Regions from separate parts of the Homo sapiens genome. Here all the other regions are linked to region 1. A link means that fine-mapping ties the variant in region 1 to the expression of a gene that starts in the linked region. Tissue or cell type: adrenal gland. Region 1 holds a variant in brackets; each other region holds the start of a gene. All regions are shown on one strand. Distances are from middle to middle.

The links. PIP is the estimated chance that this variant, and not a neighbour inherited with it, causes the effect.
Region 2: KCNMB4 starts here. The variant in region 1 is fine-mapped to the expression of KCNMB4 in adrenal gland (GTEx, PIP above 0.99).
Region 3: CNOT2 starts here. The variant in region 1 is fine-mapped to the expression of CNOT2 in adrenal gland (GTEx, PIP above 0.99).

Annotation. Positions count from the first base shown.
Region 1 is chr12:70,567,798-70,575,906 of GRCh38, reverse strand. PTPRB (protein tyrosine phosphatase receptor type B) reads left to right here. Exons shown (of 34, transcript NM_001109754.4): 12 at 3,820-4,083; 13 at 4,618-4,881; 14 at 5,969-6,232. It overlaps PTPRB-AS1 (PTPRB antisense RNA 1), which reads right to left. Exons shown (of 9, transcript XR_001749196.2): 9 at 4,457-6,409. Among named protein-coding and RNA genes, the nearest start is that of PTPRB, 66 kb to the left of the region's middle. The variant T/C (reference allele first, on the strand shown) is at 4,208.
Region 2 is chr12:70,361,348-70,369,456 of GRCh38, reverse strand. KCNMB4 (potassium calcium-activated channel subfamily M regulatory beta subunit 4) reads right to left here and starts at 3,167. Exons shown (of 3, transcript NM_014505.6): 1 at 2,387-3,167. The coding sequence starts at 2,722. RefSeq lists a silencer at 3,112-3,351.
Region 3 is chr12:70,239,558-70,247,666 of GRCh38, reverse strand. CNOT2 (CCR4-NOT transcription complex subunit 2) reads right to left here and starts at 4,234. Exons shown (of 16, transcript NM_014515.7): 1 at 4,187-4,234. It overlaps PRANCR (progenitor renewal associated non-coding RNA), which reads left to right and starts at 4,307. Exons shown (of 5, transcript NR_120460.1): 1 at 4,307-4,355; 2 at 4,774-4,843; 3 at 5,438-5,486. RefSeq lists enhancers at 3,505-3,644, 4,375-4,574, 3,749-4,948 and silencers at 3,945-4,204, 4,276-4,815.

The sequences.
Region 1 (8,109 bases):
GAAATGTCTGTTGGTCAAAACCACTATTCATCCTTTTTCACACAAGGTGAAAATGTGAACCTTTATGGTTCTGGGACTAGGGAGCAAAAATCTTAGCAAAGGAAATGAATGTTCAGTCCAATGTGCTGGAAAGAATTAAATTTAAATAGCTACCATTTTCCCAATATATTTATGCTTTCTGGGGTTTATACCTGAGATTTCTGCTTAAGGTTGGCATCAATACATTGTCAAATGTTTCCTACTAAGCTATGGGTTGATTTCTGTATTTTAAAATGTCAGTTTTTCCATGAGGTTCTGAGACAATTGTCCTTATCCTGTTACCTAGCGCAGGACCTGGGGCTTAGTAGGCACTCAGTAAATACTTGGCAAAGGAATAATCAGAAATCACTTAGATCAGGGGTCCCACCTGGGAGTCCATGGTTCATGGGAGACTTTAGGAATGTAGTAACCCCTGAAATTGTTTATGAGGTTGCTGGGGATAGGAAAGGTATATGCATTTCTTTGAGAAGAAACAGTCCATGGCTTTTATCAGATTCTTATGGTTTCTGTGACCTCCAAAAAGCTAAGAACCTCTGATTTATATTGTTACAGGATGCTGACATTGAAGGGGTCCTTAGAATGATCTAATCCTGTTTCCTCATTTGGATATAAAGGAAGTCCCAGAGAAGGAGTGTGGCTTCTCCAGGGTTGCAGGGCTGACTGGTAGTGGAGTTCAGTCTAGCTCCAGTGCTGTCCATTCCATCATGCTGTATCCGAGAGCACTAGTCAGGGATATAAAGAGATTATCCCTACCCTTGAATAATTTGAAGCCCAATTACACTGACAATCACAATAATGACTTAGATCTGAAAAGCAGATTTCTATTTACAAAGCAGTCTTATGTCAGGGTCTCATATTGATCAACTTGGAGCCTAAAAATCACCAGAAATTAAAGGATGTGTTACCTAACTACCAACCCCTTGCTTCCTACCAATGTCAATTCATGATGATTTCCTATCCGTATGACTTTAATATTGCCAAGTCTTTTGCTGAGATTGTTTTAAAATGCAAGAAAGTGATTCTTTATTCAGTGCATCCTCTTGACTCCTTGACCGGCATGAACTTGGACTTGGTACACGACTAATGGAGGCAAATCATTGCCCCTGACAAATCAGTTTAACTGGAGGGTCATGTCTGAGTTGTTCTCTTGATGATTTTGGCTGATTATCTTAATGCCCTTTTCCATTTCTGATGCTCTTGTTCTACATTTTGGGTGAAAATACCAATATTTCTAATTCTGTATCACATCATCTCACTGTGTAGCAAGGCAGGTCTCCACAAATTACCCCGTTCCACCTGGAGAGCTCCTTATTGACTTAACGTGATATTCAGCCAGGTTTTTCTTCCTGTAATAGTTGCTTTGCCTTTAGCAAATTGCCTGGATCATTGACCTTTCTTAGCCCATGCATAAAATGCCACTTCATAATTTCCTCTCCTTAACTCTGTGATGACTGTATTCTAACAACACTGTAATTGGTTTTAGGTAAATATCTTGGAGAAAGCATATCTGTCCTTGCTCCATATCTGTGGTGAGCTATATTCCAAACACTAATCAGTAAACACAAGGCAACAAAGGATGCTAATGCAACTTGCAGGTGTGAGAAAATGGAGCTTCCATGCCAAAATACTGAAATTTCTGGATCATTTCATGATTTGAGAAAAAGTAGAGGTGAAAAATTGGACACAGCCTTGGCATGTGGTCAGATCAGAAACCCCTAATATATACCAAATACAGAGGACATGCTAGTATTAGGACAAGAGTTTAGTACCCTGGATCCGAGTTCATGCCTCTTTTCAATGCTCCTCCTCATTAATATGTATAATGTCCAGTTACCGTGAAATAGTAATGAATCTGTGGCCTACTGTTGAATTAAAATTCAGCCCCAAATGGAAAAATGAAATCTCCTTAATATCATGCTCTAAATACAGAATTGCCTTATTCCACAGTGTTCCTAAGTAACATGCATATATTTATTTACTGGTTGGGGAGGGGACCACAGATATACAGAATGGTTTCGTTCATATATTAGAAAGAACCTCACATGCACAAAATTGTATTAATCATAATTCTTGGTTCAAGAAACCATGCATCCCCAGCACTTTGGGAGGCCGAGGCGGGAGAATCATGAGGTCAGGAGTTTGAGACCAGCCTGGCCAACATGGTGAAATCCCATCTCTACTAAAAATACAAAAAATTAGCTAGGTGTAGTGGCAGGCACCTGTAATCCCAGCTACTTGGGAGGCTGAGGCAGGAGAATCGCTTGAACCAGAAGGCAGAGGTTCCAGTGAGCCAAGATCGCACCACTGCACTCCAGCCCGGGCAAGAGAGTGAGATTCTGTCTCAAAAAAAAAAAAAAAAAAAGAAAAGAAAAGAAAAAAGAAACCATGCATCAACTGCCACCTTTACTTTTTAGGCATCTAGTTAGTAATTTTTGATAATTTAACATGTACACAAGAAACCAACCAGTACCTAAAATAAAAGCTAGGACCTTGACAATAACCTACATCAAAGTATGTGGTCCCCACCTCGTGAATTCACTCAAAGGTAGCCAACATCTTGACTCCTATGTTCACCTCTCCCTTGCTTTCCATCTTGCATAGTTTTATTGCATTTATATACAGGCCTAAAATTATGGGTTTCAAAATTTTTTGTTGTTTTTAACATTATTTAAAAAGGTATTTTTAATGTAGTATTTAATATCTTAGGGACTTAGATGTTTTACTTATTATACAGGTAAGATTCATCCATATTTTGTATTTTGATGTTAAGGACAAGAAATCCATATTTTTGTGTTTTGAGTTAAGGAATTAATTATAACTATTATATAATATTTCACTGTGTGTGTGTATGTGTGTATATGTATGTATTCATTATCCAGTCTCCTGTATATATTCTTCTACACGTGGTTTTTATATAGTTTTTTAATTTTGCCAGTCAAATGGATGTAAAACAGTATTTCACTGTGGTTTTGACTTGCATTTCCTTGATCACCAGTGATGTGGAAAATCTCTTCATTTATTATGCAAATAACCATATGTGTTTCTTCTTCCATTTTTCTTTTTCCTTTTCTTTTCTTTTTTTTTTTTTTTTTATGAGATGGAGTCTTGCTCCATCACCCAGGCTGGAGTGCAGGGGCATGATGTGATCTTGGTTCACTGCAACCTGTGCCTCCTGGGTTCAAGTGATTCTTCCATCTCAGCCTCCCGAGTAGCTGGAACTACAGGTGTGCACCACCATGCCCAGCTAATTTTTGTATTTTTTAGTAGAGACGGGGTTTCACCATGTTGGCCAGGCTGTTCTCAAACTTCTGACCTCAAGTGATCTGCCCTCCTCAGCCTCCCAAAGTGTTAGGATTACAGGTGTGAGCCACCATGCATAGCCTCATTTTTTTGAGGGGGGCGGGTTGGGGGATTGCTTATATTCTTCTTAGTAACTTTTGAGTCAGCAAGGTATGTTGGAATTATCTATATCGTTTACCATCACTCATATTAATCATCAGCCATCATGTTTAATGTTCCATCTTATACATGACACTTTGTGCAGGCAAACAGCAGGCTTAGAATGAGTTCATCAGCTTCTGTTAAAAGATCCGTTTAATCACTCCACATAGTGTAACAATCTTTCCCCTCCAGAAATTTGTAACCTAAGGTCTAAGATTTTTCTTTTAAATGCACACAATAATAATCTACTCTCTCTTTTTATTGTCCCAGCTTGTCATCTGTGATCAATTACTCACTCAGAATTCATAAATATTTAGTTACTCTCTGTTTCCTTTTCAGTGCCTGACAAAGTCCAGGGAGTCAGTGTTAGCAACTCAGCCAGGAGTGACTATTTAAGGGTATCCTGGGTGCATGCCACTGGAGACTTTGATCACTATGAAGTCACCATTAAAAACAAAAACAACTTCATTCAAACTAAAAGCATTCCCAAGTCAGAAAACGAATGTGTATTTGTTCAGCTAGTCCCTGGACGGTTGTACAGTGTCACTGTTACTACAAAAAGTGGACAATATGAAGCCAATGAACAAGGGAATGGGAGAACAAGTAAGTGGAACGATTGCAAAATCTGACAGTTGGTTGGACTTGAAAGTCTCTAGTAATTTATCTGAACCTTGAATTTTTTCTGCTTATTCATTAGTACATTACATTCCCAGTAAGTCTCACTTGG[T/C]GCTAACATCATTCAGCCAAGCCATGGCCTATAATTACAGAATATTTATTGGTAGATAAAAGCAAACATAGTGAGGGAGCAAGAAGGCTAAATGTCCCATTTTTCTTCCCTATCTTCCTGCATCATGGCATTTAGATTCTAGACTTCTTGTTTTATCTTATGATTGAGATCATAACTCATTTTATAATTATGTTCTACCAATGCTGATCATGTAACATTTATGTCAGGAAAAAACCACAATGTTAATAGTTGCTTCCAATTTTTCTTGTTTAATTATGCATGAAGTAGTGCTAGTGGTTTATTTGGGGAAGGGAGATGTTGCCAGTTCCTTGAATGTGATTCATAAATTATTATGTAGGTAAACTCTGATCAGTTCCTTTCCTGAAATGTCTTCTCATTTTTCTCCCTAGTTCCAGAGCCTGTTAAGGATCTAACATTGCGCAACAGGAGCACTGAGGACTTGCATGTGACTTGGTCAGGAGCTAATGGGGATGTCGACCAATATGAGATCCAGCTGCTCTTCAATGACATGAAAGTATTTCCTCCTTTTCACCTTGTAAATACCGCAACCGAGTATCGATTTACTTCCCTAACACCAGGCCGCCAATACAAAATTCTTGTCTTGACGATTAGCGGGGATGTACAGCAGTCAGCCTTCATTGAGGGCTTCACAGGTAATGTGAAATACTGTTCTTGAACCTGAATAGATGCAGTGGTGCATTTAACTTTCGGGTAGTTCAGGTATTTCGATTGAGCATTTGGAGGGATAAAAGGGAGACAGCAAGAAGGGACAAAGTCATGTTGATAGTGACAATGATGTTGTCCAACCTGGATGAATGAAAATAAAGTATGATGTCAGCAGAGAGTGGCGGGGTTGGAGGGTGCTTTCAGAGAAATAGCAATGAACTGATGTGATCAGCTGGTGCTTCTGAGGCACACAGATTAAGAATTAAGTGTTACTTGGGTATCACTTCTTTAGAACTCTTTTAGGAGTGTTGCCATAGTAGTTAACATGTACTGACAGTTCACCATGAACCAGACCCACAGCAAAGCATTTTATGTCTACATCTTGTTCAGTCTTCACAATGCTTTGGAAGCCAAGGCAGGAGGATAGCTTGAGCCCAGGAGTTCAAGCACAGCCTGGGCAACATGACAAAACCCTGTCTCTACAAAAAATACAAAAAAATTAGCCGGGCACGGTGTTACGTGCCTGTAGTCCCAGCTACTGGGGAGGCTGAGGTGGGAGAATCACTTGAGCCCAGGAGGTATAGGATGCAGTGAGCCATAATCATGCCATTGCACTCCAGCCTGGACAACAGACAGAGACCCTACCTCAAAAATAAAATAAAATTAAATTAAAAAAGAATCAATCTTCACAACTCTATGGGCTGGTTAGTATTATCATCACTGCCATTTTTCCTAATGAAGAAACTAAAACTTACAGAGGTCAAGTAATTTGCCTGTAGTCCCACAGCTAGTGAGTGAGAAAACCAAAACTTGGACCAAGACACCCTAACTAGCCCCTCGCTATATAATTAGCATTCCTCATTTCCACTCACCGGCTTTGACTTCCCCCTAAGCTTTCCCCCATCAACTTTAGTTCACACAGAAAAATCAGAGAAAAGTGGCAAATTGTTACTTTCTTTTTCATGTGAGTTCTCTCAGTGGGTGCCAAAACATCAGAAGCATTCAAAACTTTGTTTGAAAATTTCAACAGTTCATTCTCTAAGTGATGACTTTTAAATTTATTTTCTGTTTTAGTTCCTAGTGCTGTCAAAAATATTCACATTTCTCCCAATGGAGCAACAGATAGCCTGACGGTGAACTGGACTCCTGGTGGGGGAGACGTTGATTCCTACACGGTGTCGGCATTCAGGCACAGTCAAAAGGTTGACTCTCAGACTATTCCCAAGCACGTCTTTGAGCACACGTTCCACAGACTGGAGGCCGGGGAGCAGTACCAGATCATGATTGCCTCAGTCAGCGGGTCCCTGAAGAATCAGATAAATGTGGTTGGGCGGACAGGTAAGCATCCACCTGGAGAAGGGCTAGATTGTAGAATGCCTCATGGTTCTCCAAAATGGGACAGTGAACGGGCTCAGCTATTCACAAATCCAGATTTAAAACCACCAAAGTTTGTACAATTCAATGGTTTCAAGAGCCTTACTCATTTATTCTTTGTATTTTTCTCTTAATAGAGATCTGCAAAACAAATGAAAGGGAATCAGAAACCAAATCATTTGAACACATTTTTATACTTGCTAAAGGATAATAAAATTTTAAATTTTAACAAGCAGGCTGGGCACAGTAGCTCACGCCTGTAATCCCAGCACCCTGGAAGGCCAAGGCAGGTAGATTGCTTGAGTTCAGGAGTTCGAGACTAGCCTGGGCAACATAGCTAAACCCCATTTCTACTAAAAATACAAAAAATTAGCCAGGCGTGGTGGTGCACACCTGTAGTCCCAGCTGCTTGGAAGGCTGAGGTGGAAGAATCACCTGAGCCCGGGAGGTCAAGGCTGCAGTGAGTCGTGATCGTGCCACTGCACTCCAGCCTGGGCAACCGGAGTGAGACCCTGTCCCAATAAATAAGTAAATAAATAAATAAATAAATTTTAATAAGGAGACTTCCATAATTATGCATTTTTCAAAAGTTCTACCTTTTAAGAAAGAGTACACATCTGTGCCATCTACTTTACCTGGTAGAGCTAAAAAAACAAGTATCAAATGTATGAATAATATATCTGTTTATATCAATATCACTATTCATGTATTATTTTTGAAAGATCTCTAGCCATACTATAGTTCTCTTACAGATGAGGAAAGAACAGTTCAGAAAGCTTGTAAAACAGTATCAAGGATACGTATATAACAAGACCTAAAGCTATAATTCAAGTCTAGGTCTGTCTGGCCCCAAACCTCGTGCCCTCTCCACTGTGACACAATACTTCTTAGATGTCTCCCATTCTCATGACCACTTATTTAGTTGTGGGGTCTGGGGCTTCTATACCATGCCCTACTATGCCTCTATTTCATATCTATATTTATATCTATATCTGCATATCTTTAACCCTATGACAAATCCTGTGTTAGAAGTGGGCATTCGGGCCAGGCGCGGTAGCTCACGCCTGTAATCCCAGCACTTTGGGAGGCCAAGGTGGGTGGATCACAAGGTCAGGAGATTGAGACCATCCTGGCTAACATGGTGAAACCCCGTCTCTACTAAAAATACAAAAAATTAGCTGGGTGTGATGGCAGACGCCTGTAGTCCCAGCTACTCGGGAGGCTGAGGCAGGAGAATGGCATGAACCCAGGAGGCGGAGCTTGCAGTGAGCTGAGATCATGCCACTGCACTCCAGCTTGGTGACAGAGTGAGACTCTGTCTCCAAAAAAAGAAAGTGGGCATTCAGTAGCAAGGCAAAGCCCCTGACCTCAAGAACCTTATAATCTAGTGAAGGAGATAGAAAAGTAAAAAGGCAATTACAGTAAAACATGGTACGTGCTAAGAAAAAAGTGGTTATGAGATGTTAGAGGAGCAAACAAGAAGAGTCAGGGAAGGCTTTCAGGAGGAAGTAATATTTAAAGAAAGACTAAGAAGTCATCCAGGTGAAGTGTAAGTTGTCTTCGTTCCAACAGAGAAAACAAAGCCCTGGAGGTGAGAGAAAGGATGGCACATTTGGGAACCTACACCTTTTTTAGTATACTAGAATAAAGGCCGGGCACGGTGGCTCATGCCTGTAATCCCACATTTTGGGAAGCTGAGGTGAGTGGATAGCCTAAGTCCAGGAGTTCGAGACCAGCCTGGGCAACGTGGCAAAACCCCATCTCTACTAAAAGTATAAAAAGCAAAAGTATACTAGAATAAAAAATGTGAGGCATGTGGCCAGGTAAGTAGAGAGACCAAA
Region 2 (8,109 bases), 210 kb after region 1:
AAAGTAAGGCAAAGAAAAGATCTAGGCAGCCAAGAGCCAACAGGAATGGACAATGGGTATTGCCTAATTGCAGGGACACTGTGGAAACACTCTGCTTATGTACATGACTCTGGCATAATATTTTTATTACATTGAATTTTTCCATCACACTGCCTATAAGAATTTCCAAATTGAGAATTTATTGGTCAAAAATAGAAAGGTGATGCTAAAGAACAAACTTACAGTCTATAAATGATACAACATAATTATAATCTGGATAAAGAGATATAAATTGGTTTGGCTGAGAAAACCTTGACTAAAATGAATAGGATGTTGTCCATGACTTCTGTAACATAAATATATTCTTCTCCAGTTCTGTCAGTTCCTGAATACTTTACTTTATAAAATGTATTTTGTTCAGGTACTTTTTCAAAACAACTGTTGCCAAGATCTGAACTGGCACTGGAAAAAAAATGATTATTTTCAGGGGAGAGAGAGATAAAGAAAAGAGAGAGGAGAAATTTTAGTATTACATAAAGCATTGGGATTGCTTCTAGGTAATTTAAAAATCAACGTCCCAATGATTTCAATTTACTTTTTCTGCCAGATACTTCAAACTGCCTGAAAATTGTGAAGCAGTCTTTTTGTAATAAATTATAATTTGTCCTTGTCTTGATTAGATATTAGCCATTTATTAATGTGTGTGTGCATATATATGTATATATAGATATGAAATTTATTAGTGCTTGAACCACTATCTTAAAATAATTAGCAACGTTTCACCAACTATAACAACTTCTAAATGATGAACTGCCATATAATTTCTAAATCATTACTACTGGTTGGCACTCATCTTTGACATTATTGATTTAATTCTAAAAAAAAAAATGTTTCTAAAACCCTGAGATTTCTTTTTAAATTCCTGAGCATTAAGAGGATCAAGTTACAACATTTGTCTTTGAGACGTTATCACCTCTTCAAGATCTTTAACATTATACTCCAAATTCTATATTCTTAGTCCTATATTTACTGCTTATGTATTATTGATATTTTTTAAGGTAAATCAATATTCATTTGTCGACAGGAGCATTTTTTTTTTGAGAGGAGTCATTCATATTTTTAAAAAGAAATATTTTCTAAATGTCTCAAATTCAAGAATTTACTGTTCAGGAGGTAAGACCACAAGTTTTATTGCAGAGTGACGGTAAGCTGTTTTAAATACTATTATAATATTAATGTAGAATTTTTTTCTTTTGGATTAATATAAATATATCTTGTTAGAGTTAACAGAAAGTTTTCCTGTGAACACAAGATGCATTCCCTTTTGGACTGTTTTTCTGCTTGATCCCTCAAAAAAAGGAAAAATGTCAGTAACTTTTAAAAAGATACATACCTTTGATAGTTAAGCAACAAGGAGAGCAGAAAAGATCAAGGGAAGTAGAAACGGAACCAGAACCAGGTGCACTACAAAGCTCAATTAGTTCACAGGCTAAGGACACTGCTTTTTATAAGTTATTTTTCTCCATTGGGAACAGTTTTCTGAGACTTCCTCTCTCTGCTCTCCATCCCGGGAGTCCTAACCAGGTTTTATCTTTTTTTTTTTTCTTTTTCTTTTTCTTCTTGCTTGCTTTCGAGACCAATAGAAGTTGTCAGAGAAGTCATATTAGGTACATTTCACTGAAGGTTTTCTATTTTCAGCAAGTTTTACTGTTCTCCAGACGACTCCTGACTGTCCCTAAACACAAAGGGTAACTAGGCTCCCTGTAGACTCTTTTGAGAATCTATTTCATGAAAACTAGGAGCCCTCTGTACTTCCCAAAATGGACCCGCAATATTCCACATTTGATTCCGGGTCGTTTGTCAAGCCACAAAAGCTTATCTTTGAACCCCAAGTTGAAAATGCCTATGTAGAGCGAAAAGGTGAGGAACTCTCTCACAACTTTCGAGAGTCCCCTCGACCTTTCAAGGAAGGTCATTCCATCTGAGTTCTAGATGAGACCAGCTGAAGCTCGGACCTTGACCGTGAGCTGGAGTAGGTGGATCCCCGCTAACCACTGGCTTTAAATGGAGGAAAAGTTAACTTTCTTGGCTCCTTGCACTTCTCCAAACCCAGTCCGGTAGGCGCAGGACCCGGACTGGGTCGAGGCCTCAAAATCTGAGACCAGGCAAGACAGGTTTTAAAGTAAGCCTCTGGGCACCACTGGTCGCCGCGCGTAAACCCACCTGAAAAGACCGGAGCCCTGGGGCTCCCTGATGTAGTCATTCCTGGTTTGAGCACAGCCTGCGCCACCTGGTCTCCTCCTAGCAATGCGAGCACACGCCGAACCCTCCCCGCGCGGAGTCTAACACCGACGCTGCCTCCAAACCTCCCTCGCGGGGAGCCCCTGGGTGCGCGGGGCGTTCTTACCTTGGGGTTGGTCAGGAGCTGGTGCTCGTCGCTGTGCAGCAGCGCCCTAGAGTTGGACTCAGAGTTGTTCACGTAGACCTGGACGCAGGGGTACTGCGAGGTGCCCCTGCAGTCGGCGCCACAGGTGAAGGTGCACTCGAACACCTCGCCGATCTGCTGCACCGACAGCACCGTGCAATTGGCCTCCGTGGCTTGCAGATCCTGCAGCGCGGGACTCAGCCAGCAGAAGCCGAAGATGAAGAGCGACACGACGCCGGAGATGATGAGAAACAAGCCGAGCCGGATGCTCTTGTCCTCGGCTTCCGTGTACTCGTAAGCCACCCGGAGCTTCGCCATCGCCCCCCACTCTCGGCGGCTGGCGTGCTCCCCCCGCCCCCTCCCGCCCCCGGCGCCGAGCCCGACTGCCTCGGGCGGGAGGAGCCGCCGCCGCCACCGCCGCCGCCGCGCGACAGCAGGGGAGTGGGCGGCGAGGGGGAGCGCGCGAGAACAAAGGGGCCGAGGCCAGCGACGCCCCCGGCGGCGGCGGCGGCAGCGCCCCCCAGCCCCCCAGCCGCCGCCTGGGCCCCGCGGTGCAGCAGCCGCTTCAGAGCCTCCTGCACCCTCGGGCGCGGGGAGCGCACGGACCGCTCCAGCTTCCAGCGCCCCCTGCCAGCCTCCGCCCCCGCACTCTCCCCGCCTCCCCCACCCCGCCTCCTCTCGTCGGGTGTCTCTCTGTCTCCATCGCCCGCTGGCCGCTACTCCGCTGACTCGCCCGGCAGCTGCCCCAAGGCTAGGAGTGTCTGAGCTGGGGCGAGCCCGGGGGCTCCCCCGTGCAGGAGGAGGCTCCGCCCCGCCCCGTCCGCAGCAGACCCGGGCCCTTCCGCCCCGCCCCGCTCCGCCCCGCCCCGCCCGGGGGCGTCTCCTTTGGGCGAGGGGCTGACGGGCACAAGCGACAGCGGCGACTTGCAATCGGAATCTTCGCTCACTCCCCTTAGAGGGACGTCCGAGATGAAAGATTAAGATCAATTTAGCTTAACCGGAGGGAAGTTAAAATAATAATAATAATAAGAGGGGAGGGTGGAGTTCAAGTGGAGCGGCGGGAATCTTGAACTCCAAACGAGTACTGGTCACCTGCAGGGAGAGCGGCCAGGCTCCGGGCGCACCCCGGGAAGCGGGCACGGGTGGCGGTGTGGGAGGACACGAGCCGCCCAGGCCGGGCGGATCGAGGTGAAAGCCCCAGGCTAGCGGTGTGCGCTGGGAGGTCCCCGGGGACGACTGAATCGCAGGTTCCCATGCCACGGGCGGGCTGGCGCGCGGTGGTGCCGGAGGCGTGACCCAGCCGCGCCCACGCCGCCAGCGGCTGCGCCCAAGGGAGCGCAGTAACCGTCCAGTCCCAGGACTTGGGCCTCCTAACCGTCTTGGCGCAGACCCGCGCCCCCTGACCCTGCTGAGGCCGGGAGGGCTGCAGGATTGGAGTTAAACAAGCTGAGTCAGGTGGAGTTTGCTGTGGAGGCAATGTGCGTGGGGGCAGGAGGCTGGACGAAGGAAACTTGCTGCTTAGGTCGTCGGTGACCCTTGTGGCAACTTAGGTCTCTGGCAGCCGAGTTGACCCCAACTTGATTTGCCCCCATGGCTGGGGCTGACTGAGACCAAAGGAAAAAGGTGGAGAGCTTTGCAGCCTGGAAAGAAATACCACTTTACCCATCAGAAAAGTACTCTTGCTTTGGGGCTCGCAAGAACAGAATCATTTCTGTCGTTTCCCTCCTTAGGAGTCTTGCCACCCCTGACCCGCCCCAGGATTTGTAGATGAGGTTTCCAGGAGCGCTGCTTAAAGCGACAGCGCCGGGCAGACCCACTTTGGGACAGGTACTGTTTCTAGACCTGTGTTCTGCTCTTAATTCTTGCCGTTGCTCCCTCCTCCCCCAATTACGCTAACAATGCTTCAGCCTCTATTGTTTTCGCGACCTTTTTAAAGTTAGAATGACCTTTTCCCAAACTACACTTTTATCATAAAATCAAACTTGAGAACTATTTATATGTACATTTCGAAGAATAAAATCAGAATATTAACTTCCTTGCAAACTACATAAACTTTTTTTGTTTGCTTGTAAGTCTCAAATGAATAAACTCTTAATTATGTTCCTGATGAATACGGAAACATGGAATCATGGAATTCTTGACTTCTCTTTCCTGGACTTCAAATGTTACTTAACTGGTATTGAGTACCTTTCGACTGCAGTTCTGATAACGTTATTTTGAAGCACTACATTATGACAGGTAACAAGTATTTCCCAGCAATGGGCAAATTAATTACAGGAAGATCCTAAGTGTCTTTTTCTCAATAAATTAAGAAGATGTAGAGTTTGAAAAACGTCCAAATTAGGAAGATGCTTTGTTCTCTAATACCTTTCAGGTTTTGAGATTTTCTTTTTTTAATTTAAATGTAAGAATTGTATTCTTTTCCTGTTAGCATAAAGACAATTGTGATTACATTGCTTAAAAGTGAGTTTAATAATTGAAATAGCATAACCGAAAATCACAAATCTTCAATCTGAATCTTTTTCCTATTGCAGGAAAAATAAAAAACATAGGAAATAATCTTTTTTTTCTATTGTTATAATCTTCTTTTCCAAGAAAGGAAAAGCTATGTCTAAGATCTGAAGCAATGATGAACAAATAACAAGATACAATTATTCTAGCTCAGTATGTTGAGGAACTGAAATGAGGCAGAATTAATTCCTATTAATGCACAGCAGTTGGGGGACTACCAATAATTTAATGAATATGGTTCGTTTTTCAATGATTCCAGAGCTCAAAGTCTTCTGTGAATGAAACCTCTGCCTCAAAACTGAAGTACGGTGGTCTAAGTCTAGGGAACAAAATCAGAAAATTCTATCTTATTTTAACTGAAATTCTTGAAGTTTTAAAATTCATTTTCTTTCAGTTCTGCATTTAGTCAATTTCTTTCTTGGCAATTATTCTTAAAGTATTTAAAGAAACTTGTGTCTTCTGTTCTCTAGACATTTTTTTCTCCTGTTTCCTGTTTTTAATTTAGCTTTTCTCTGAACACTTTTATCTTCACATCTTTATTGAAAGTCAAACGTATTAAGACTTCACAAATTAAATCAATTTCTATTTTATTCTTAATGAAACACTGGAAGTGTTTATTAGTTTTACTTACTTGAAGCGGAGCTGCTTTATCACATTCCCAAGGAAGATTGGATATGTCAGCCCCTCAGTTTCAGAATACAGGTCACCACTTACTAAGTCAGAATGGTAGTAAGAACTCCAGGAAAGCTCAGAAATGCTAAGATCTGAGGTCACTTAAAATCTCTGTTCCCTGTGAAAGGTGGAAGTAGCACAGAAAAAGCAGCTAGTCCTTTCTTTGAATAGTGTTCCACCAATTAAGATTAAAAATGTAATATTAAGAACCAGACTGACTTATTTGATGTACATCGTCTGCAGTAGTTTTTCCAGTAGGATCATGGCCAGGTCTTGATAAAGTTCAATTTAAAAGAAAAATAAAGCCTGTCTAAACAAGGGCATCAAAGCCATGTTACTTATAATTTGTTCTCATGATCAATATTCAAAAAGTCCTGTGGCTGATGCTAAAGTTGCAGTATACAATATCATATGTATATATACTTTTTAATAAAAGATTCTAAAAATAATTTTAAGGCAGGCTTTTGTATCCTAGGAATAGAAGGGAATTTACAGCAGGTGGGAAAATTTTTTCAAAAATTGGCACATTATGAAGTTTTTTGATAACTGCCACTAAACACTTGAAAAGCGAAAATACATAGGAAAATAATGTATAATCACTTTTTCTATTAAAATTTACGTTCTAGAGTTTAGACCTTTTTTACTAGATATTACACATGATGAAAGTATGAGTGATCCAACAAAGAAAACCATATAAAACCATTTTATATTTTCTTCTTGATTCAGCAGCTATAATTATAGATTTTGTTAATGTCATAGGAAATTGAGTTCCAGCTTGCTGATACCAAATTAATTTCCTTGCCATGCTCCATTATGAGTGTTAAATATTTGTTATTAGCCTCAGAATTTTAAATTCAAAATACATTTCCTATGTGGTCACTATTTTTTCTGATTGTTTTTTCCTGGCCATAAACTTCACCTATTAAAATGAGCATATAATTATTACTAAGAACACTACTTACTATCTCTAATTACAGTAAATTAGAACAGGAAGGGATTTTAACCATTGCCTAGTTCAACATTAACCAAGAAGCTCCCAGACTTTGCATTTTGCTTGTAATTGTAGTTATTTAAAATATTTTTTAAAAGCTCAAATTTATGTTTGTGTATAGCCTTTATGTTTGCAACTGAGGAAAGCAAAACACAGACAATCAATTCACATTTTTTCCATTAAAATTTACATTCTGGATAGATTAGCAAATTTTTAATACCATACTGGTAGTGCTCTAGAGTTCCTAAAATCTCACCAACTGTTGAGTCTTTCATGTTAACTGCAGTGAATCTGTATGGGAGAGATATACACAGGTATGTAGTAAAAGGGAAATCAGCTTTGGAACTTGAAACATAGAGGCCAAGAGGTTTTGGTCCCAGCTTTAGTAGTAAATAATTTGACACAAGGTAAATAATCCTCTTAGTCTATTTTCTGTTGCTATAACTGAATACCTGAGACTGGGTAATTTATAAAGAAACTTATTTCTTACAATTCTAGATGCTGGGAAGTCCAAGAGCATGACAGTAGTATCTGGTCAGGTCCTTGTGTACCCTAACATGGCAGAAGGCAGTTCCATAGCAAGAAAGCAAGAATGCCTATTAACTCAGGCCACTGTACATATAAAGCCACCAGTCCCATCAGGCCCCACACCCTGATGACCTTATTTAATCCTAATTATCTCCCAAAGGCCCCATCTCGAAATGCCATCAAAAATATGAATTTGGGGAATATGTTCTAACACATTAAATTTGGGGGACACTTTTAAACCATAGCAATATTAGTTTCCTCCTTGTCGTACAAAAGGGTTGGTCTAGAAGAGTTTTAGTATTCTAGTATCTAATTCCCATTTTTGTTTTGCCATGCACTTTAGAAAATTGGGTATTGCTATATAACAGTATCTAGTGAAGTTAAAAGGTCTTGAACAGAATCCAAAAACATGGAGAGCCTGTCCTAGCATGATGGCTAACAGGAAGAGTGTTTGTCTTTAGAGAAATGGACCTACGTCGATGCAACACCTAATATAAGCTAGGTTATTTACAAATGCCTTAATTTAACCTTCCCATGAGAAGAAGAGGGAAAAACATTCAGAGATTAGGTAATTTTTGCAAGACTGCACACATATTGTGACAGGGCCAGGGGATTTTATATTTGCATTTTACATAGTATCTTATATTTAAGAAATACTAACTACTCGAAGATAATAAATTACCTAAAACAATTTTTCTACTATACTATGCCACTTCTAAGAAATTTGTTAACAAAAATGAAGTGTAGATAATACAAAAAGCATTTATGAATGGATTTAAAATGTGTTTCTATACTTATATTTAAGTACAGTTAGGCTTAATCAAAATCTCTACTGTGAAACGATTATGAAGGGGACGGTGAGTAGAGGCTGAAGGAACTAATAATTTAATCTGGTCCCCCTGCTTAATTTTACTCTGAATCACATTTGTGTTGAAAATAGCCTCTTCAGATGCTTAGCAAATAGTAGTAGTACTGTTTTATGTGGAACAGAGAGATTAAGTTA
Region 3 (8,109 bases), 330 kb after region 1:
TGTGACATTCTATAATAGAAGTTTGAAGAGTAAAAAGCAATACAGCAAAGGATTTGGGGAGTCAGGAAAGATTTATGAAGAAAGTGATACCAAAGAGGAGTATGGAAGAAGTTCATCAAACAACAGAGAAGTGAAAGATACATAAAATATGCACTACCACCTGCCCCCCACACACATACATGCAATAACATACACATGAATAAAAAGAATAGGACGGGCGTGGTGGCTCATGCCTGTAATCCCAGCACTTTGGGAGGGTGAGGCAGGCGGATCGTCTGAGGTCAGGAGTTTGAGACATGCCTGACCAACATGGTGAAACCCTGTCTCTACTGAAAATACAAAATTAGCTGGGTGCATGCCTGTAATCCCAGCTACTCAGGAGGCTGAGGCAGGAGAACCGCTTGAACCCGGGAGGCGGAGGTGGTAGCGAGCCAAGATCACGCCATTGCACTCCAGCCTCAGCGACGAGCAAAACTTCGTCTCAAAGAAAAAAAAAAAAGAATAAGGAAAAGAAAATGTGCAGGGTTAAGTGGCAAATAGTCCAAAATATCTAACTATATATCTAAGTGGACTTAGATCCTGAGTCTACGCATATACAAAACCCTGAAGTGCCCAGAAAAGGAAAAATTTCCCATTTTTTCCTAAATAATTCACTTTTTTGTATTTCCATATTATATGTCATAAGCTCTTGACAAAAAGCAAACATTGTAAACTGTTTTATTACTTTATAATGCAGCACACCCCCAAGGGATATACCAACAGATACCAACAGATTTGCATCTGTATTTCAGAGAACAAGCTCTCAGAAAACACAGTACAAATTCTATTTCCAGGACATTCCTAATAGTATAGACAAAGAAAATAAATGAACAAACCACATCAGCATGATTAGTCATAAGAGTTGAATTCTAAAATAGAAATCAAAGGATGTCAAACAGAAAAACCAAAGAAATAAAAACCTAACTTTCATTCCACTTCAAGGCAAACTTTCTACAATGACATCAACTTTAGCACAGCTCTTTTCAAAATATCTGATATAAGTCACAGTGAAATTCAATCCCTTTAAGTATCACAGGTAGAAACTGCTCTTAGTAAGGAAGAACAGTCACCTGTATCATCAAGCAGAATAAGTTCTACCATAGCACTAGATCTCTTGATTAACACTGTATGTAATTCCACTCAAACATTACAGTACACCTCATATTAACTCTGCCCCTAAACTGCCCTACCTGGTACCCTGGATATTCTGCCTCTTTGTGTTACAAAATCCACTACAGATCCAGGTAACAAATAACATCATAAATGTTTGGTGGTATATTTTCCTGAAATCTCAGGAAAATAACCTGTCCTCAAATGCCTATTCAAGCAAGCACATGGCATTGTTAGTTTGCCTTCAAATATGTGATCCCAACAGAATGAACTTTCTACAGTTACAAATTTTAACAACAAAAAAAAGCTATTATTTACCACTGCTTTTAAAGAGCAAGAAAATAAATTGTAAGCTAAGTTCTTTTCATTGGTCTATTAATGCTTACTCATTATTTCATATATACATGTGAAGCATACATTTTATTCATATTATCAGAAAATCTTATGAAGTAAGTCTGTCACTAGAAAAGATAAAACTATAACTTATACAGGTTGTAAAAAATTCTGTAATGGTCTTTCAAAATACAGGTACTTTTAACACCAGTATCTACTAAAGGAATACAAATGAGAACTGGGTTAGAATCACTTCTAATAAAATCTATTCATACACCTGAAAATTTTATTTACTTTTGAACAAATAATTTTCAGATTACAATAACTGTAAAGCATCTCTGAAAAATCAAAAAGTGCAACATCCAAAGTTATAAAGCAAAAACAAAGGTAATTAGTTCTTGTAGGGAGGTATATGGGAAGTTGTATCATTCTGAATTTTTTTGTTTTTGTTTTTTGCCCAGCATCAGAAGATAAGCCACAATCTGAGTTTTATCTTCAAGAGCAGGTACTTGGGGATATAAATCACTCATACACAAGCATTTTGCCCTCATTTTTCCACCATGTAAATTAAAGTATTATAGAAATTGAAAAATTGTATAGGCTGTATTTGTTGCTTGGTTAAACAGGCAATTCTCATTCCCTGAGATCAGATTAGGTTACAGATATCTCTACATTGTATACTTAGAAAAAGATTCCTGCCAACAAATGTTTACATTAACTTATTTGTATTGATAAAGCACTAATCAAGATGCAAAAAAAACTTCAGCAGTTTCTCACTTCCTCTCTAAAATACAAAGTATTCACAAAAATTATTACAATTCAAGCTCTCAGAAAATATGAGAGAAAAGTACCTTTTTTACAGTAAGGATCTTACAAAGTCAAGAAATAAGTGAGTAGAGTGGAACATGTTTTGTCTTTAAGTGTATTTTGTATTTTTTTCTTTAGATTTAACATTATAATAGAACTACAAACTAAACAAATTCAACATACAGAGCTTACTAATTATCTTGGTCCATTATAAAACATTTCAATGAACTGGGATGTGAATATAGACACTTAACCATTTCAGCCAACTATGATTCTTAACCCTTTCAATCTGCAATAGTTACCTTACAAAATTGTGAGATTTATTCATTGACGTTTGGAAAGAACTGTTGTCAATTATGCCAAGCATTCCCAAACTCAACATCAACCTTGCATGTAAATGGATACTTTAAAATTTCTATCTCATCCCTCACCCCATACTTTATTCTTTCCATTTATATTGCTTCAAAAGGGAAATCAACAGTCACACTTATGATTCCGAGCTCTAAAAATTCCTAATATTAAGCATGACACTAAATATGTTCAACTTTGAACCTTAAATTCAAGTTGGCCTCCCTCGTGAACTGATTTTAACTGAGTACTTTTTACCATTTCGCCAAGAACTAAGGGTTCAAAGCAGTGTACTTAATTATGAGGAATTGCCCAAACGATTTTAAAAGGAGTGGGATTCTCTGACCAAGACTTTTATGAAAATGAAACAAAATATGTTGCACTCAGTCTTCCGGATGTTGAAAAGTGAAGATGTCTCCAAGGATTCGAAGGAAGTTGATGTTTAGGTTCCCTCTGAGAGGGTGGTACCCTTAATGTAAGACTTTTGTGGTAGTAATACCGTACCTACAGGCCTGGAATAAATATAAGGTCTAAAACCTTGGAAATACTTTGTATAAAAGAAAACTCCAATTCTCTTTTGCTAAGGACCACAGTTACCAAGAGTTATCAGCTTTCACCCGGACAGACAACAGTGCTTCAATGAAGAACTACAAAGGCCTCTTTTAACCCTACTCTTTTCTTCTGTTAAACTTTTAAGCGAGACCTACGACAGCAAAAGGTGGAGAGGCCCCTGCGGAAGTAGAAACCCAGGACTTGCAACTTCACAGACAGAAGCGTCTGTGGTTCCTCCGCCGCCCCAGGATCATCCGGACTCAGTCTACGACACTACGGAAGCTTCACCTTCCTGGTGCGGTGGCAGAGGCGGCATCGCAGTTGCATTCCTTCTCCCTCCACCATGCACAGCCTTCGGTATCCCAGGGCCTGCAGGATCCTGACACCCGTTAGCCAGTCCAGTGTCTCCCATCTGACACTTGCAAACACACTAACAGAAATACACATAACTGGCAGATGATATACGTGTATTGAGAGAAGGTAAGAAGCCACAGACAGCACCAGCTGCCGGGAAGGCGGCAGAGCCGTCTAAAGCGGGCTCGAGCTCGTCGGCCACGGCCACGGCCGCTGCCGCCTTCTCTTCTCCCCCAGGAAGCAGCGCGGCGGCAGCGGCTCCTCCGCGCTGGCGGGAGCCTAGGGGAGTGGAGTCTGGGGAAGCCCCACCACTCGCGGATGGGACCGGGCCTAGGATCTGGAGCTGCTGCTGCTGCAGCGGCCCGAGTACAGCGACGCTTTACGTCCGGTCCACCACCACCCCCATACACACCCCCTCCCTCCCTCCACCGCCGCCACCCCCCTCCCCGCCCGCTCCGCTCTCCGTCTCTCGATTGGAGCCGAGACAAAAGCAACGGGAAGCGGTGGGCCGGGACGCTACCGGCGGACCCTGGGCGCGACCGGACCGGCCCCGGGGCATTCCCCCGCCTTGCGGGGGCCCCGAATCTGCCGCCCCCGCCGCGCGCCCCGCTGCCAGACTTCCGAAAATTTACCAAAAACTCACCGCATGAATTTTCTTGTCCCGCGGATCCAAGATGGCGACGTATCCACCGCGGAGGCTGCTGGGAGCAAGACCTTTACCCTCTGACCGCCGCCGTGACCCCCGTCGCTCCGGCTTCCCTCCAGGCGGCAGCGGAAGGTGGGAGCGACGACTGCAAAACGGCAGCGATGGGGTGGGTAGGCAGGCCGCTTTCAGCGCGCTTCTAACAAGGTGGAGAGAGGCGCTTCACTTCCCTACCGCCCTTACCGCCGCTCCGTCTTGTCTCCCACCGACTCACAGGGAGGCTTGCTGCTCCTCCGCGGCCGTTACAGAGAGCGGGGCTTCTGCGGCCGCTACCGTTTCCCTGGGGCTAGGTTGCTTCGCAGAAGGCTCTGGCCCTGAGTCCGAGGGGGACTGCGGGGTCCAGGGGCGATGAATGGTGAGGTGGCTTCAGTCCGCCCTCCCCGGGGACGCTGAGCGTGTTCGTGTTCGTGTTTGTGTTTGTGTTTGTGTTGGACACCCCCGCCCCCGCACGTCCGCCTCGTCACTCCTCCCCTCCTCACTCCCGCCACCTGGAGCGAATCTGATCGTGTCCCTGTTTCCTCCCTCAGCTCCCGCAACCTCCGGAGCTTGTGCGCGTACTTCAGGGACCGGCACCACGTCACCGTCACCTCCTGAGTAGTGAGTTCCCCTCTGATGAAACCACTGGTGTGTTTACTCACCATCCCCACCATTTTTTTTTCCCCAACCTGATGGAAGGAAGTACATAATGGAGAGCAAGTTTTTAAAGCACGGTCGTGTCGTGTGAACTTGCTCTAGCCAAATTAGGTTTATAGCACTTTTTTTGGCTCTCATTACCTCCAGTCCCCACATAAACAAGAGTGACCAGCTGGGTCATCCGCAAGACCGTTTGAAATTATTGTGGCTTGGGTGGAAACTTAAAGGAGTGAAGTATCTGCTTTCCAGAAAAATCGTTGTCATTCAAAGTGAAATTAAACTTGTTTTCTTTGCAATAATTCGCCTTTATTTCCTTGTATATCTGTAAACTCTTCACTTTTTTGTAATTACTAGACAATTCGGACTTAAAAAGAGCCTCAGCATGTGTATTTTGGAATTGTGTAGCTTCATAATGTGAAAATTATTCTTTTCTATTTGAGTAAAGTACAGTTAATTTGAAGTAAATAAAATTTCTATTTCCATTGGTTGTTTCTTTTAAAAAGTCACCTTTTACTTACAAAAGAATCACTGTAATCCAGTTTACATTTATCATTGAAGGTCAAAAGCAAGAAATAGGAAGAAACACAAGCATACTATAAAATAAAAGGTAACTGTCATGTTTTTGAAGGTAAGGTGTTTTGACATATCAGCAGACATTGTGTGAATTTATTTCAACTCCTAGTGGTACTGGTGTAGGTAGAAAATGTTTTGCTTGGTTATTCATTTCATCAAACACTCTACTTCACTGTTTTTTTTTCACTTCAGGAAAATTCGAGGAGGAACAACACATACTAGTGTCTTTCCTTTCTTTCTCCCCGTCTTCTGCAAATAGTCCCTTCCTCTTCCTGCTTTCTCCTCCTTCTCATGTTAACATCTTCAACCATAAGATGGTGTGTTAAAAGATTGAATATACCTCTATGGAATGACTTCCAGAGGGTGTAAGTCTGATATGAGAGTTTTATTACCTTGAGTATTTTACTGGAAGAGATAGAACAACAAACATTTTCATAATAAATGTGTGGGTTAGGAGTGTTAGGAGAAAATACACTGATACTATTACTTTCAATATTTGATACTACTTACTTTGACTCTCACTGAACACCTATTTGTTTAGGATGAATTCACTTTAAGCCGGGTTGAAGAACAAGCCTTTAATTGTCCTATTATTTGTGCCAAATCTATTATAAATTTGTTAAAAAATTTTTAATACCTACCTTAGAGGGTACTCTAGGTATTTAATGAGCTAGCATTTGTTAAAGGCTTGTATAGTAAGAATTCTTATAGTAAGAGTTCTTACCAATAGATGGTATATTTTTTAAATTGTCCTGTTGCATCAAAAAGTTCATCTTTATTGGTAATGTTGATTAAGTTTGCCCATTTGGTAGTTTGGTTTCTTTTAACTATCTTACTAGATTTTCTTACTTTTACCTGAAAAGTAGTCCTTACTAATAGGCACATGTTTTGTATATTTCCAAAATATGTATTATGTTAAATTCTCTGTACACTTTATTTAAAAATTACAGACGTTGAGGGAAAAAAAATACCCTATTAAGGGAAGAATGAGTTTGTGTATAACTTGTAGAAGAAGGAGGCCACCCATTTTTAGAAAAATATGGATGGTATTGAAAATTTTGCCATGGCAAGGGATAAAAAGGACAGGCTTCTCTAATGTGTCTGAAACAACATTTGAATCCCCTTTGTTCATTCCCTAAATCTGCTGCTCCTTTAGAATTCCTGATTTTCATAAATAGTACCACCATTCACTTATTTGCTCAGGCATAAAACTTGGAATTTTCTGATTCTTCACACTCATACAACTCATCAGACAGTACCATCAGTTCTTCCTGACAAATACATTCTGAATTTAGCTACTTATCACTTCCACTGGTACAACCCTTGGGAGCCACCATCATCTGTTGCTGGACCACAGCAATAACCACACTAGTTGCTATCACTTTCTATCTGTACCCTCATGAATATTTTCCCATTTAAACCATTCTCTATATACCAACCAAAGCAATCACTTAAAAAATGTTATTAGGTTATGTCACTCCCTTGTTTAAAACCCTCCAATAGCTTCCTTATGCACACAGAATGAAATCGGAATTCCTTACCATAGCCTTCAAGACTGCATAATCTGGCTCCTGCCCACTTCTCCATCTTCCCAGGAAGCAGCACAGGAAGTTGTTCTCACCCTTCTTACTGCCTCCTTTCTGTCGTGGGCTGTGCTTTTTCTAGTCTGTAGCAGAGTCTGTTAGTTGTCCCCAAAAATTCCTCCATTTTTTTCATAGTAATAGACATGGATACATGGCTACCCAGAACAAAGACTATATTTTGCAGCCTTCCTTGTAGCCATGTAATAGTGCTGGCTGATGGGATGTAAGCAGTATATCATGTGGCACACTTGTAAAACCATCCTTAAAAGATAGTTGGTGCACACCTTCAATGCGGCTTTTCCTTTATCCTGTACCGTGGAATATAGATGTGATGGCTTAGAACTGTAGCTGCCAATTTGTGCCTCATGCAAGTTCTCTCATTCTAGGGATGGCAAAACTAAACTGGTGGAAACCAGGGTCTGTGAGAACTTTATGGATCAGAGCACCATGCTAGCCCTGCAGTCGTAAATGTCTATATTATTAAAGCCACTATTTTGGAGTCTCTTGTTCTCAACTGAATTTAATCTTACCTGATACTCTGTCTCAGGGCCTTTGCACTTGCTTTTTATTTTTTATTTATTTATTTTTTTTCTGCCTGGGATGTGGTCTTCTGTCTTGGATATGGCTGACTCATTCTCTTCCTTCAGGTTAACCCAAATATCTCTGACAGGCCTTCCCTGGCCACCGTATCTAAAATAGCTCACGTTCCCATTTATTCTCTGTCAATCACGTGCCCCTCTATTTTCTTAATAGCATTTATAATTTATCATTATCTTGTTTATTCACTGTTTATTTTCTACCTCCCTTCACCCTACAAAAATATAAACTACACCTGTTTTTTTCCACTACTTTATCCTTCACACATGGTAGGCATTAGATAAATGCTGTTAAATTAGTGAGTGAATGAATCAACAAAATTCTTATCCAAGATTAGCTAGACTTTTTAAATAATAAATGAGTAAATGTCAACAGATATCCTTAACACAAAATTTGTAAAATCCAATCTAGGAAACAGGAAAAACAGTACTAAACTAATAGGATATTCCTGACCTCCAACTTAATAAAGAAGATGTC